3 separate regions of the Homo sapiens genome follow, and all the other regions are linked to region 2. The links come from fine-mapping of genetic effects on gene expression. A gene starts in region 2. Each other region holds a variant in brackets. All regions are shown on one strand. Distances are from middle to middle.

What was found.
Region 1: its variant is fine-mapped to the expression of SOBP in whole blood (TOPMed, PIP above 0.99). The same link has a PIP of 0.9 or more in blood mononuclear cells.
Region 3: its variant is fine-mapped to the expression of SOBP in whole blood (TOPMed, PIP above 0.99).

The regions. Positions count from the first base shown.
Region 1 is chr6:107,656,745-107,660,933 of GRCh38, reverse strand. SOBP (sine oculis binding protein homolog) reads right to left here. Exons shown (of 7, transcript NM_018013.4): 7 at 1-2,727. Among named protein-coding and RNA genes, the nearest start is that of SCML4, 170 kb to the left of the region's middle. RefSeq lists enhancers at 2,600-2,789, 2,251-2,827, 3,030-3,079, 2,828-3,405. The variant C/T (reference allele first, on the strand shown) is at 2,463.
Region 2 is chr6:107,488,175-107,492,363 of GRCh38, reverse strand. It overlaps SOBP (sine oculis binding protein homolog), which reads right to left and starts at 2,247. Exons shown (of 7, transcript NM_018013.4): 1 at 1,652-2,247. The coding sequence starts at 1,747. RefSeq lists silencers at 1,868-1,927, 1,968-2,017.
Region 3 is chr6:107,667,010-107,671,198 of GRCh38, reverse strand. No RefSeq gene overlaps it. Among named protein-coding and RNA genes, the nearest start is that of SCML4, 160 kb to the left of the region's middle. RefSeq lists enhancers at 269-328, 1,692-2,192, 2,193-2,693. The variant C/A (reference allele first, on the strand shown) is at 1,975.

The DNA of each region.
Region 1 (4,189 bases), 170 kb before region 2:
GCCTCCAAGATTCTCTCGGGCTCCATGGGAGAAGAAAATCAGGTCTCCGGAATCCACAGGATGATCACTTCAAGGGAGCTGCTCGTGGTGCCTCAGATTTTAATGAACATTCATTTTTTTGAGAAGCTAAATCAACTAAGTGCGAGACTCTGAACAGGTCGAGTTGCTTTTCTAGGCTTCTGTTTTTTCATATGTAGAACAAGAGAACTGAACTAGATTTACAATGACTAGAACTAGATATTAGCATACTTTCCACCTTAGGAACTTTCTGATATTTAACTCAGGTATCAAAGAGCCAAACGGACCCACCCCATTCACATAAGGCTGAAATAAAAGTCTCTCTAGTCAGTGGGGTGAGATGGTGTGTGGATGTGAGTGGAACCCGTGGAGCATGTTTGCCTCCATTTGATGGTGCTTCTTGAACCTCAGGCCTGAACCCTTGGAGCCAAAAAAGATCAGGACTTGAAGAGCACTTGGAAGGGACACCACACCTGGGTCTACAGCCTAAACACTCACTTCCCATGCACTGTGTGCTGTCAGTGATGGGCATGGTTAGGAAGCAGGCCCTGGAACGGACGGAGTGGGCTCTTGTCTGCAGACAAGCGTGGTCTAGCAGGTCAGGAAGAGACAGTGCCATCCCAGTAGCTTACCATCTTTTAAAACTCCTTAGTTCTATTTTTTAAAATGTTTCCCAGGGGGAGAAAAATGAACACCTCTGTAATAAAACAAAAAACAAAAAACAAAAAAAAACAGTAGTCATAATAATGAGAAAAGCCAAATAAGCACATGTAAGTGCATTTTTTTTCTTCGAGATTTATTTTTTGTTTGATGAATCTGACACCAGTCAGGGAGAGGAGAATGTTGTGACCCAGCAGAAAAATATGGCCCCAGAGGAGGGGCGGCTTCTTCCTGCCTGGGTGGGTTTGGTGCTGGGGTTGATTTGTTATTATTTTTTAATTTGTTGCTGGAAGGTTTTCTTTTGTTTACTTTTATAAATCTCTCCCCGGGCTTGCGAGCTTCCCCTCCCTCCCGCCTCCCCTTCCCCTGCCCCCAAATTTCATTTTTAAAAAGCGAGCTTGCTCGCCAGGTGTGTCCCCCAAGCTCTCACAGCTCTAATAAATAAGGAGCACCTGTAAAACAGTAGCTTGACTTGTGAAGTGACTCTGTACAAAGGAGAATCTAGAAATACAGTATGTACACCGCATCCTTGGGCCGTGGTGCTTCAAGGCTGGCGCCACACCGTCCTGGCCCTGCCCACCCGCAACTCGCCACCCCTCCTGCTGAGGCTCCGCGGCCTTGTGGGGCGGGGGCACCTGGACCCCTCCAGAGGGAACAATTGCTTTATTTGAGTTAGTAAACAGATACACTGAATCACAAGGTGATTTGATTTTTTTTTTTTTTAGTTTTCTTCCTTTTTTGATTTTTTTCTTAATTTTTTCTCTTCTTTTCTTTTTCTTTTTTTTTCTGTACTCATCAGAATGGGATACTCCACAACTGTCTCACCAACTCAGTGCCAGTACACATGCTCTAGAGGACTTCTGGACTCGCAGCTACAACTGTACAAGTGCACACAAGTGAATCTACCCTGTTATCCTCCACCCACTGATTGAGGATCGAATTGCACATTTCTCTTAACCATGACAGGAGAAAGCAAACAGTGAAACAGAATCATGGGTGATCTTTCTCACTTTCCCTCTTGTTTTCATTGGTTTGTCCATACCATTCTAATTATCATGAAAGGGCTCTGCATATAGAGAGATTGTCTCACTGACTTCCTGGATCACCGAAAACCATCAGGGTTGAAATTTCATCTGAGTCTTTCCTGACGCCCAGCAAATATTCCCCCTCGGATTATTTTACACCTTGAGGGCATTTTGGTCTTCAGTTCAACACTCTTGCTCTGTTCCCAAATGGGGCGCTATTTAGGGGAATTTAAAGAGAAAGCTGAGAAGAATAAACATTTACCGAGTTCTCTTGGCATTCAGTCTCTGAAAAACCACAGTATAAACTATTCATGCTGCTTCTTACATCTGTCAAATCGAAAATTAAAAGCCATAAAAGTGTAACACTGAAAATATGGCATCAAAAAGGATAAAGGTGGCCTTTGTAAAAATAACAAGAAAAGTATATTAGCCAATAAAATATTCTAACTCTTCATTTAAAAGTGCATCCCGGGCAGGACAGAGATGACTCTGAAGCATTGGGCCTCCAGGACCACCCCTCTCCGCCATCAAAACGTGAACAATATAGGTCCAAAACCGTACAATGCAAATCACAATTCTTAGTGTAGCAGCAAAACCACAGCAGTTTTTAAAAAGATTAAAAAAAGATTTTTTGTGTTCCAATCCATATCATCTTCCAGCCTCAGTCGCTGAGCCTTGAAGATGGGGCGGGGAGAATACCTACATTGGTCCTTGTGGCTTGTCGGTATTTCGTTTTTTTTAAAAGCCAGGGGTGAAATC[C/T]CTAAGTTCCTCTGGGGAGAAGCAGAGATGGTGGCAGCAGGAAGGCTGGGCCTGCTTGGTGGGTCCAAGATGCGCGGGCTTCTCTGGGCTAGAGGCCATCGAGGGAGGGCTGCTTCCTCTGAGATGCTTAATGACAGGAAGCGGCTTTATTTGCTTGAGTTTTAGCCAGAGGGGGTGGTGAGCTGACCAGCTGGTGTCATTGGATGGCGTGACATGGTTTGCTCTGCGCCCTCTCTCCATGAGCGTACCCTGTGAGTGAACGTTCCTGGAAAAAGAGCAGAAGGGGCTGTCAGAATCCACTGGACCGATCCCCCTCCCTCCGCCCAGCTGGGGAGAACCCAGGCATGAGTCAGACAGCAGCACACTCTCCAGCCGCCAGGGCAGACCTAGGATGAGCCCCAGAACCGCTGCAGCACAGCGTGATTTCAACAGGAGTTTCATTCACGGTCTGCTCAGGTCAGCCCTGCCAGCTTTGTGTGAGGAAATGAAACTCAAGTCGCTTTTTGGAATACCATAATGAGTAGGGTACACCACGCCCTCACCCAAAGACCACAGCATCCTTTGCAACCCAGCAACCCTCCCCCTCCACATGACTGCATGCTTAACCAGCAGGAGGCTTTTTTTTTTTTTTGAGACAGGGTCTCGCTCTGTTGCCCAAGCTGGAGTGCAGTGGTGCAACTGGCTCACTGCAATCTCTGCCTCCCAGTTTCAAGTGATTCTCCTGCCTCAGCCTCCCAAAGTGCTGGGATTACAGGCATGAACCACCGCATCCAGCCCCAGCAGGAGGTCTTTTGAGTCACCCAAGGTCACTCCAAAGCCAGGCAAGGTCACGGAGGACCCTGGAGCTCCTGACCTCACTCCTGTAACCCCATGTCTCAGCTCTGGTATTTGCTGAAAAGAGGGCCAATAGATTCACTTTTTGGCAAGTGGAAAATTACCATGGACACATATACCTATCTTCAGAAGTTTCCCACAAAGGCAACTAAGCTGGAAGAAATGCTTGCTTTTCTCCGTGTGTGGGTCTTGCCTGTAAAAGGTGAGCCATTCACATCTCTTCACATCCAAAACAAACAGTAGCACTGGACTGGAAGAAAATAAATCAACCAAGAGCCTTGGGGTCCCAGGGCAGAGGCTCTGAACAGGATTTTCCACCAGGAAAGTCAGTTTCTGGGGAATGCTCATCCCAACATTCACCGAGATATGAGGCTCTGCCTCTTGATACCTGCAGCCTTCTTTCATTTGCCGCCAGTCACTTGGTTTGAAATAGAGCTTCCTGAGGCCACTCAGTCAGTTCTGGGAGCAGCCACTTAGAAGTCTGCCAACTGCATGGTAAAGCCCCAGAGGTCAGGGGCTTGTCTGTTTTGCTCGTGTCTCTACACCCAACTCGTAGCTCAGAGTCTGGCCCGCTGTGGGCGCTCGACACACTTTGATCACATGAGTGGGTCAGGCGCCTCTCTTCTGCCATGCCCCAAAACAGCACCTTTTCTTCCTGCCAATAAATGAGGCTGTCAGAAATGTGAATGGGTAAAATTTGGCTAAGGTGAGGTGGTGACAGAGGACTTGTAAACATCTTTACAACTGTTGAGATTATTCTTAGAACAATGAACAAATAACTTCAGAGAGGTGATAGAATGTAGGACTTGAAGGGACCCCAGAGATAATACAGTACCATTTCCTCATTTTATAGTGAAGAAATGGAGCCACAAAGAGACCTGGAAGCTTGCTTG
Region 2 (4,189 bases):
TCCTTGTGATTTCCTAGTGGCTTTCACCTCTCTCCCCCTTCCCCACCCCCAACCTAAAATGAAATGCAAAAGTAAACTGGAAATGCAGGACAGGAGGTAAGGGTAAGTGAGGAAGAATGGTTATTATGGACTGTTTGAATTTTGTTCCCATCAAAAAACAACAACTTCTACCGGTCTTAAAAAAAATAAAATAAAACTGTCCATCATTGGAATCAACAGTGGTTTCCACCATAAGAAACAGCATTGATTTCCAAGGCAAATCTCCCTTAACTCTCCGTTGGACTCATGCTGCACCTCATGCTTCCAGGTACTAAGTTCCTTATCCAGTAATAAAACCCCTAATTCTGATATTTAGGTTGCTTCTGACATTTCTGAGAAGTAAAGCTAAGCATATGCACCTAGGTACGCATACATATATGATATATATCCATGCGTCCCCTGCTAAGCGTGAGCTATGATAGAAAATGCTTGTTCTAATGAAGAAAGCGTCAAAGCGCAATAAATTTGACTTACTTGCACACCATTTTCATCCAGTTTGTTTTTTAAATACAAACTGAACCAAAACTGGCCAAGTAGTAGTATTAAGCCACCTGGTAGTATTAAGGATTTCATGCAGAAGATGGGGAACACCAAGAAGACCGCAAAATGCAAACCTGCTACTTTTTGATGGCTCGCAGAAAAATAAATAAATTGTTTTATATCAATAGAGACTCGTGAAATCAACACAGAATAAAACCCTCGCCCAGGCAAAAGCCGCAACTTCATGGAAAATAAGGAGGTGGGGGGCAACGAGGGGGTCCAGAGCTGAGCGGTGCTCTTGTGCAATTGCTCTAACGCGAACAGCTGGAGCGCCAGGCTGCTGCGCTCTCCACCTCTGGTGCACCGCTGGCCTGGCGGGGAGCCCAGCCTCGCCGAGAGGACTCCGGGCCGGCCTTAGCGAACAATGGACAGGCGCCCTGCAAAGGCCGCCCCTCAGACAGCTGTCCTCCAGCGGGGCTGGCCGGGGTCTGCTTGGCTGGGAAGTGAGGCAGGCAGAGGCGAGCGGGAGGCGGAGGCTGCCAGTGGTGAGGTGCGGGCGGGGGCGGGCGAGGAGAGCGGTCAGGACCGTGCCCAGACCCGCGCCTCTCGGGCCGCAGCTCGCCGGGCACTGACGGGCTCTTCACGCCGTCGCAGCTGGTTGGTTGGGGGGAAGCGGGATTGAGGAGCAGGAGGGTGAGCTGGGGGAGAGGGGTGGAATAGAGCTCTCTCCGGGGTGCCCCGGCCAGGAGGCTCCTAACTTTGGAGGGACCCTGAGGATGATTCTCAAAAAGGGGGGAGAAACTGCACCGTCCACTGGGAAAGCCTCTTCCCCTGCCCAACGCCGCTCGAGTCCCCGGTGCCCTCGCCCTGAAACGCGTCCGTGCCAACCTGGGATTCGTAAGGTTAAATAGTATGTGGTCCCCCCTCATCAAATCTGAGGTTGGCAACAATTTCGGGGATGCAGCCCTCGAGTTGGCCTCTGCTTTACACCTGGAGGAGGAGCGGAGCCGTTCTGGGCATCCTACAGAAACTGACAAGCGCGCCCCGGTACCCCCCAGATCCATACCACGGCCCACGGGGAGCGGGCGCAAGAAAGAGCTCAGTCTCCCTGGCCCCCGAGATCAAAAAATACCTTCATCTCCTCATTGATCTCCCTTTTCACTGGGTGAGCCGGCTTCCTGCTCCGTTTATTTTCGGGAGGTCTCCCTTCTTTCTCCATTTCTGCCATGTTTTTGTGTCTGGTTTCTGTGGAGATGAAATGGCTGCTGCCGCCGCCGGCGGTGGTGGTGGCGGCGGCGGCGGCGGTGGAGGTGGTGCTGATGGTGGCGAGGCTGGCGGAGGTAGCGGTGCTGGCGGGGCCGGACCGAGCCGCGAGGGGGAGGGCAGGCGCCGAGAAGCGGGGTCTCTTCTAGCGGCGGAGGACGTCAGTGGCTGTCACGGGTAAGGATAGTGCGGAGAGTCTCGGGGATGCCGCCGCCGTCGCTCCGGCTCCTGCTGCCGCCGCCGCCGCCGCCGCAGCCAACGCCGCCGCTGCTGCCGCTGCCCCTGCCGCCCTCGCTGCCGCTGCCGCTCCCGCCGCCGCCGCCGCCGGGCCGCATCCTCGGGGCCCCGTGGAGTCGTCAGCCATCTTCCGTCGCTCGGTCCGTCCGCATGGGCGCGGGGAGCAAGGGCCGGCGCGGAGAGCGGCCCCGGGCGTGCGTGCGCGGCTGTGTGTGAGCCCGGGAGAGCGCGCCAGCCCCGGCGCCCAGCGCCTCCCGCGAGCCGAGCCGGGGGCGGGCCGGGGGCCGGCGCGGGAGGAGGGGAGGGAGCGCGGCCGGGAGGGGGTCGGAGGGAGGGGAAAGGTGGGGGGGGCGAGGACAGCCCCCCGGCTCTCGAGCGGGCGTGGCTTCCACCGTCACTGGATACGCGGATGCTGCGCGGCTCCGGGGGCTGCTCGCAGCCGCCTGTTCATCCGCGGCGGGCACGGGCGGCTCGCGGCGCCCCCCGCGGCCGCCACCTCCCCGCCACACGCCAGGGGCGCCGGCGCCCGCTCGGAACCCAGCCCTGCTTCTCAGCTCCGCGAGGTGGGCTGGGTTGCGTGTGGAGTTGGTTTTTGAGCCCGTCCTAGGAGCCGCTGAGGAAAAATGAATGGGGGTGAAAGGAGAAGGTTGGGCGGCGGGAGGTCGCGAGACCTGAGGTCGCCTGGCTAGAGGGCCGCCGTCCCCCGGGGAGGGTTGACTGAGCCTGCCGCCTCGGGGGTGCAACGCTGGGGTCTCGGGGAAAGGAAACCACAGCCCGGACGAGCTTCCCCCCACTGAGCTGCCAGAATAGTTTCCCCCTCCGGGGGCCACCGCAGAGTGCGCGGAGGCTGGAGACCCCTTGGAGAGGTCCCCGCGCCCCGCCCGGCCGGTCCTCCACGCGGCGCTGCCTCGGACTGCAATGGCAATGAAGCTTTTGCCTCTCAAAGAACTACTTAGAAGTAGGACATCTCGGCCTTCAGCCCCTTCATTTCTTTTTCCCCTTGTTCCTTCTCTCTTTATCTCTCTCTCACTTATGCCCTGCTTCAAAGTAACAGCTTTACGCGTGACCCCGCCTGCACCCTTATCTGGGTGTCCTGGGTTTCGCCCAAAAGGTTGGGCTGAGTGGGAGCTTCTGGGAGCGCACGGTCCCGCGTAGGGTCCCGCTCACCCGGACCCCGAACGCCCTCGCCACGCCCCGGTGGGATCCTCCCCTCCCCGCCTGGTTGCACTTTCTCCTCCCGACTTCCCAGCTAGCGCCTGCCCTCCATGGAGCGGTGCTCGCTCCCTCTGCGCTCACAAGTCCCCTCTTTGGCCCTCTCCTGCCACGCCTGGGGCCGAGGTCTGATTGAGTCTGTCCCTGTCCCTGGGTTGAGGCATTGGGGGTGACGACTGGATGATGTTTCTGTGATACGCGCGGCTCTGAGCGCTCCCACACGTTGCAGAGGACACATTGACGTTCCCGGCTTCTCCTTCCCGCGCCTCGACACTTCATAATTACCTGACACAATGCGATATGGGGGTGTCCATTGTTCCACTGCATGTTACTGTGGAGTGTTCGTTATGACAGTGGTGGAACTTAAAATTACACAATTTTTTTAAGTTCCTAAAAGAATGAATTCCGTGTGGGGATATGAGTAAGCTTTCCATTAAATCTCAGTTTGGCCTGTCAAACGAGGCTCATTCTGGGTATTACATCGCCTAATTTGCATTTTAGCATTGTTTTGTTTCTTAAATGTCACATTAGAGATACATGGGCGTGTACGCAGGAGAGCTGAGTACCTCCACGTTGCCTATTTTGCATTTTAGCATCATTTTGTTTTTAATAAACGCCAACTTAAAAACATCTGGGAGTGCACCCAGGAGGGCTGAGTACCTCCTCCCTCCTGATTTCTTCTCTTCCCCGTCCCGGGGAGGCGAGGGGAAGCTGCACCCTGCTCCCCGTGGCTGCCTAGATCCTGGGCAAGCCAGGAGGCCAGAGCGAGCCAGGCTTTGCGCCTGCAAGGGGTCCGCGCGAGAAACACTTACGCCGAGGAAAAGTTAAAATTCCTGGGACGCCCAAGAGTCAAGAGAGGAAGACTGATGAGGTTTTAGGGGAGCTTTGCAGTACAGGCGTCCTGTATTTGCGATTTTCCCAGTAGCCTCTGAGAACCTATCTAGGTACACTCAGGTCG
Region 3 (4,189 bases), 180 kb before region 2:
ATGCGAAAGCTCACACAGGTCTTTCGTAGCCTTCACAACGTTGGGCAGGAAATGGTTAATCAGGGCCGGCCCTGAGCCTGGACGGCTGCAGGCAGGGAAGGGGCAGCGATTAATTACACTACACAGGAAGTGCAGGCCTCCATCCCTCTGCCCAACGGGGAAATCCATTTTCAATTCTGACCTCAATGTGGAAGTGACTCTTCCTGCCAAAAGGAGAGGAGTACAAGCGTCCCCTCCCCCACAGCACAGCAGAACCAGAAGACAGAACACAGGCAGATGCAGCACCAGGGGTAGGCAAAGCCCAGGCAACGTGCACAGCAGGCAGCTTGATGGAGAAAGTTTTCCTTAGTGGCACCTGATGAGACAACTCTTCCTGTACATGCACTGAAACAGGGAATAGGTACAAAAAAAAAAAACAAAAACCCAAGAAAATGCTACTTGGTATGGAACAGGAATAACAGGAGACACAGACAAGGTCAGCAGAACCTAGAAGGAGAGTCCAGACACACGAGACATTGCCTATAGTTCCATAGCAAGGAGTGCAGCCTGGGCAGCCTGAGACCCTTTCCTTAAAAAAAAAAAATGGTGTTTTTTGTTTTTTCGAGACAGAGTTTTGCTCTGTCACCCAGGCTGCAGTGCAGTGGCACACTCTTGGCTCACTGCAACCTCTGCCTCCCAGGCTCAAGCAATTCTCATGCTTCAGCCTCCTGAATAGCTGGGATTACAGGCATATACCACCACACCCAGCTAATTTTTTGTATTTTTAGTAGAGACGGGGTTTCACCATGTTAGCCAAGCTGGTCTCGAACTCCTGGCCTCAGGTTGATCTACCTGCCTCAGCCTCCCCAAAGTGCTGGGATTACAGACATGAGCCACCGCGCCCAACCAAAAAAGGTTTTTCTAAATTAGTCAGGTATGGTGGCACAGGCCTGTAGTCCCAGCTACTCAGGAGGCTGAAGCAGGAGAATCGCTTGAGCCCGGGAGTTTGAGATTGCAGTGAGCTATTATCATGCCACTGCACTCCAACCTAGGTGACAAAGTGAGAACCCCCATCTCTCTTTTTTTTTTAAAGCAAAGAATAAATGGAAGGCATACCAGAAGCCCACTGCATATTTTTTATCCATATTTTTAATGAAACTAATATATGATTAAAAAAAAACATACATAGTTGCTATTCCATTTTTCTGTTTGTCTAAAGGCCCAAGCTGAAGAACCCCTTGGGGAATGGTTTCAGATAGATCACCTGACCTACGGTTAAGCTCCAGGTTGTGATGCTCAGGGTGGGAAACACGAGGTGAGCTGCACCGTCCTTCCTTCTGCTTTATGGACTGGGGTCTTCGGGGGTTCTGTCTCTGTCTTGGTGTGCGACACGTTTACATGTTCACATACTCTATCGGCCAAGGCCCAGCCAGGAAAACAGAGAGCACCTTAGGCCCTTGCAGCCAGGGGAGCGCAAGGAAGGGAAGGGGGTCCACAGTGATGGAGAGCTGAGAAGCTGGGCAGGGGACAGTGAGAAAACCCTGAGGCTGAAGGAACAAACATAGGAAGACTTCATGGGAGCTGCAGCTCCTAAGGGCTTTCCAGAGGGAACTGAGGAAGGTGGCTGAGGGAGAGAGAGAGGGAGAGAAATCCCATCTCCCATTAGCTGAATACAGCCAGGGTGAGGGCCCTGCCATGTGGAGCAGAGCAGGGAAAGTTGAGAAATGGATCTCAGAGCAAACAGGCCCAGAGCCAGCACACTTGCTATCATCTAACCCTGGAAGCAACCCCAAGAGTAGGTCTCATCATCTCCATGTCACTGAGACAGAAATCAAGCCTTGGAGACATTAAAGACCAATGCGGCCAGCAGCGCACGGCAGGAAGTGGCGGGGCTGAGAGAGAAACTTTGGTCTTCCATCTGCACACCCACACTGTTCATTCTTCCGTGGCCCTACAGCGGTGTGGAGGTGGGGGTGGCTGTTGAGCAGCACGGCA[C/A]TTCCAAGTTGGTTCCACGGTAGCCGTCCTTACCCTCCTGCTCGTTCCTGTGCCAGGAACCACGGTCGGGGTGCCACATGGTGCTCTGGCATGAGAGGAGGCCATCCTGGCCAGGACTGCCAGCCAGGGAGGTGGACTCACAGAGGGCCTCTCCAACCTCTCTGAGCCCCCATTAAAGGCCTCTGTGAGCTCTTCAGAAGGACAGAGCGATGGGCCAACACGAGGCTGTGCCAGCTAATTATTCAGCCCTCCTTCTGCTCCCTGGAAGCCCCAGCCCTGCTGGACGGGCGGCCTTCTGTGTTCCTCGTGTTAGATGGCCTGGTTCCCCTCTCAGAGGGGCTGGTATTTGGTTGATCCTTCAGGCTCCCGTTTGGCTCATAAAACACAAACATCTGCTGGGGTTCTGGTTGGCCTGCGGCAGCCTTCGGAGCGAAGAGGGATGGAGGAGAGGTGAGGAGAGGGAAACGAGGACTCGGGCAGCCTTTCTGGGGGGGTTAATGAGTTACTCTGCGACGTGGGGGGGTGGGGGATGGGCTTTATCAAGCCAGAGCCCTGATCAGCTCCCCAAAGAAGAGAAAGGAGAAGAGAAGAGGATTTTCCCGGGGTTTCTCTGGAAAGTCTGGGGGAGTCTGCGATGCTTTCCTCCATTGCCGCGCTGCCTCCAACTGTTCCATTTCTCACCAGTTGGCTATTATTTTCTAACGCATTTTGATCATTACTTTATCAATCAAGACAGATAAACAAAAGCCTAAAAATACATCTGAGTGAATGCGTTCCCAGAGCCAACCAGTCTTCAGTACTCTGATTTTTGTGACTTTTTTTTCAGAGATGCTTGGGAAACAGTTGAAGGGCTCCATTCCTTATTAATGTGTGGCCCAGTAGAATACACTAACCAACCTCTGCCCTCCTGGCTCAGATGTATAGGGTCAAAGGAATTCAGTTAAGGAAATGGTTATCTAAGCGAAAGAAGGCCCCTTAAAAAACTCGCCTAAAGCCTTTTTCTTATGAGGATGGCTCTTTGCTTTTGATTTGCTTATTAAATCCACAGATGCCTGGGTCAAGAGTTGAGAAAGCCCTTCATGTGGCACCTTTTAAAGAAGTAAAACGGAGAGAGTTGTATTATATCATTGCAACTGTTTAGAAAGAAAAAGTGCCAGTTACTCAATGAATAGAGCTCATATTTCAGAAGCCAAATGCTGTCTAGTTATACCCTGTGAGCGCCTGGACATAAACCCAGCCCATTAACCTCATCTTTATCTCACAGAGTGGCCCCGCCCAGCCAGGCTTATTAAGAGCCTCAAGGGAGAAGCCAATGAGCATGGCATTTGAGAAGAGGCACCAGCCTCAACTCCTGCCTTAGTCCTAATCTAAGATTTTGGAATGAAAAATTCACTGGGGCACATGACCCTCCTGAGCTTCCAGGCTTTTGCACCACGTGCCACCCTACCCCCTTCTCTAGTTTTCATTTCTCAAAGTAATAGTGGTCCCTCCCAGGAGGGGGTCTGGGCCTTCTTTCCCCCAAAGAACGGCACAGGACTAACATATTCAGTGACTTTCCTGACAATCCATGGCAGGTACTGCAGGATATCAGACCTGAAGGAAACCATCCAATTTATAGCTGCTCACGTAAAAGCCATCAGGAGGATCATGAAATGATTCTCCATATGGTGCCCTGAAGCTTCCAAAAACTATACGAGAAAGGGGCTTGGAAGGAATTCTTTCCCTTTTGGAGACAAGGAGGGTCGAAGCCAAGCATCTGTGGCAACCTGGAAAAGACACTCCTCCCCGACACCCACCTCCACTGCATCCCCTGGGGCAGCCCCGAGGATCAGTCCTTGACGGCCCAGGCCCACAGGGTCACTGCCATTGGCCACTTAGGCTTGTCCATTAACCAAGCTTATGTTCTCTAGCATAAATGAACTCTACAGTCACATTGTGTGGAGGCTTCGGGACATGGTTTGCCAAATGGAAAAACATTTGGAGGTTGGGAAAATATCTTGCACATAAATTACTGAAGGCACAGAGAATCTAAAAGAGGGATGGAATCAGAAGCCAAGGAAAAGCCAGGAGGGAGCCAAAGAAAAACGGAGAGAGAGACAGAGACAGGGAAAGCGATGTAATGATTTCTCTTAATGACCCGCCTTCAGACCAAAGGCAAGGTTCTAAGCCGTGTTTGCGTCTCATAAAAGCCATGTGCCTGAGTATTAGGAAAGAT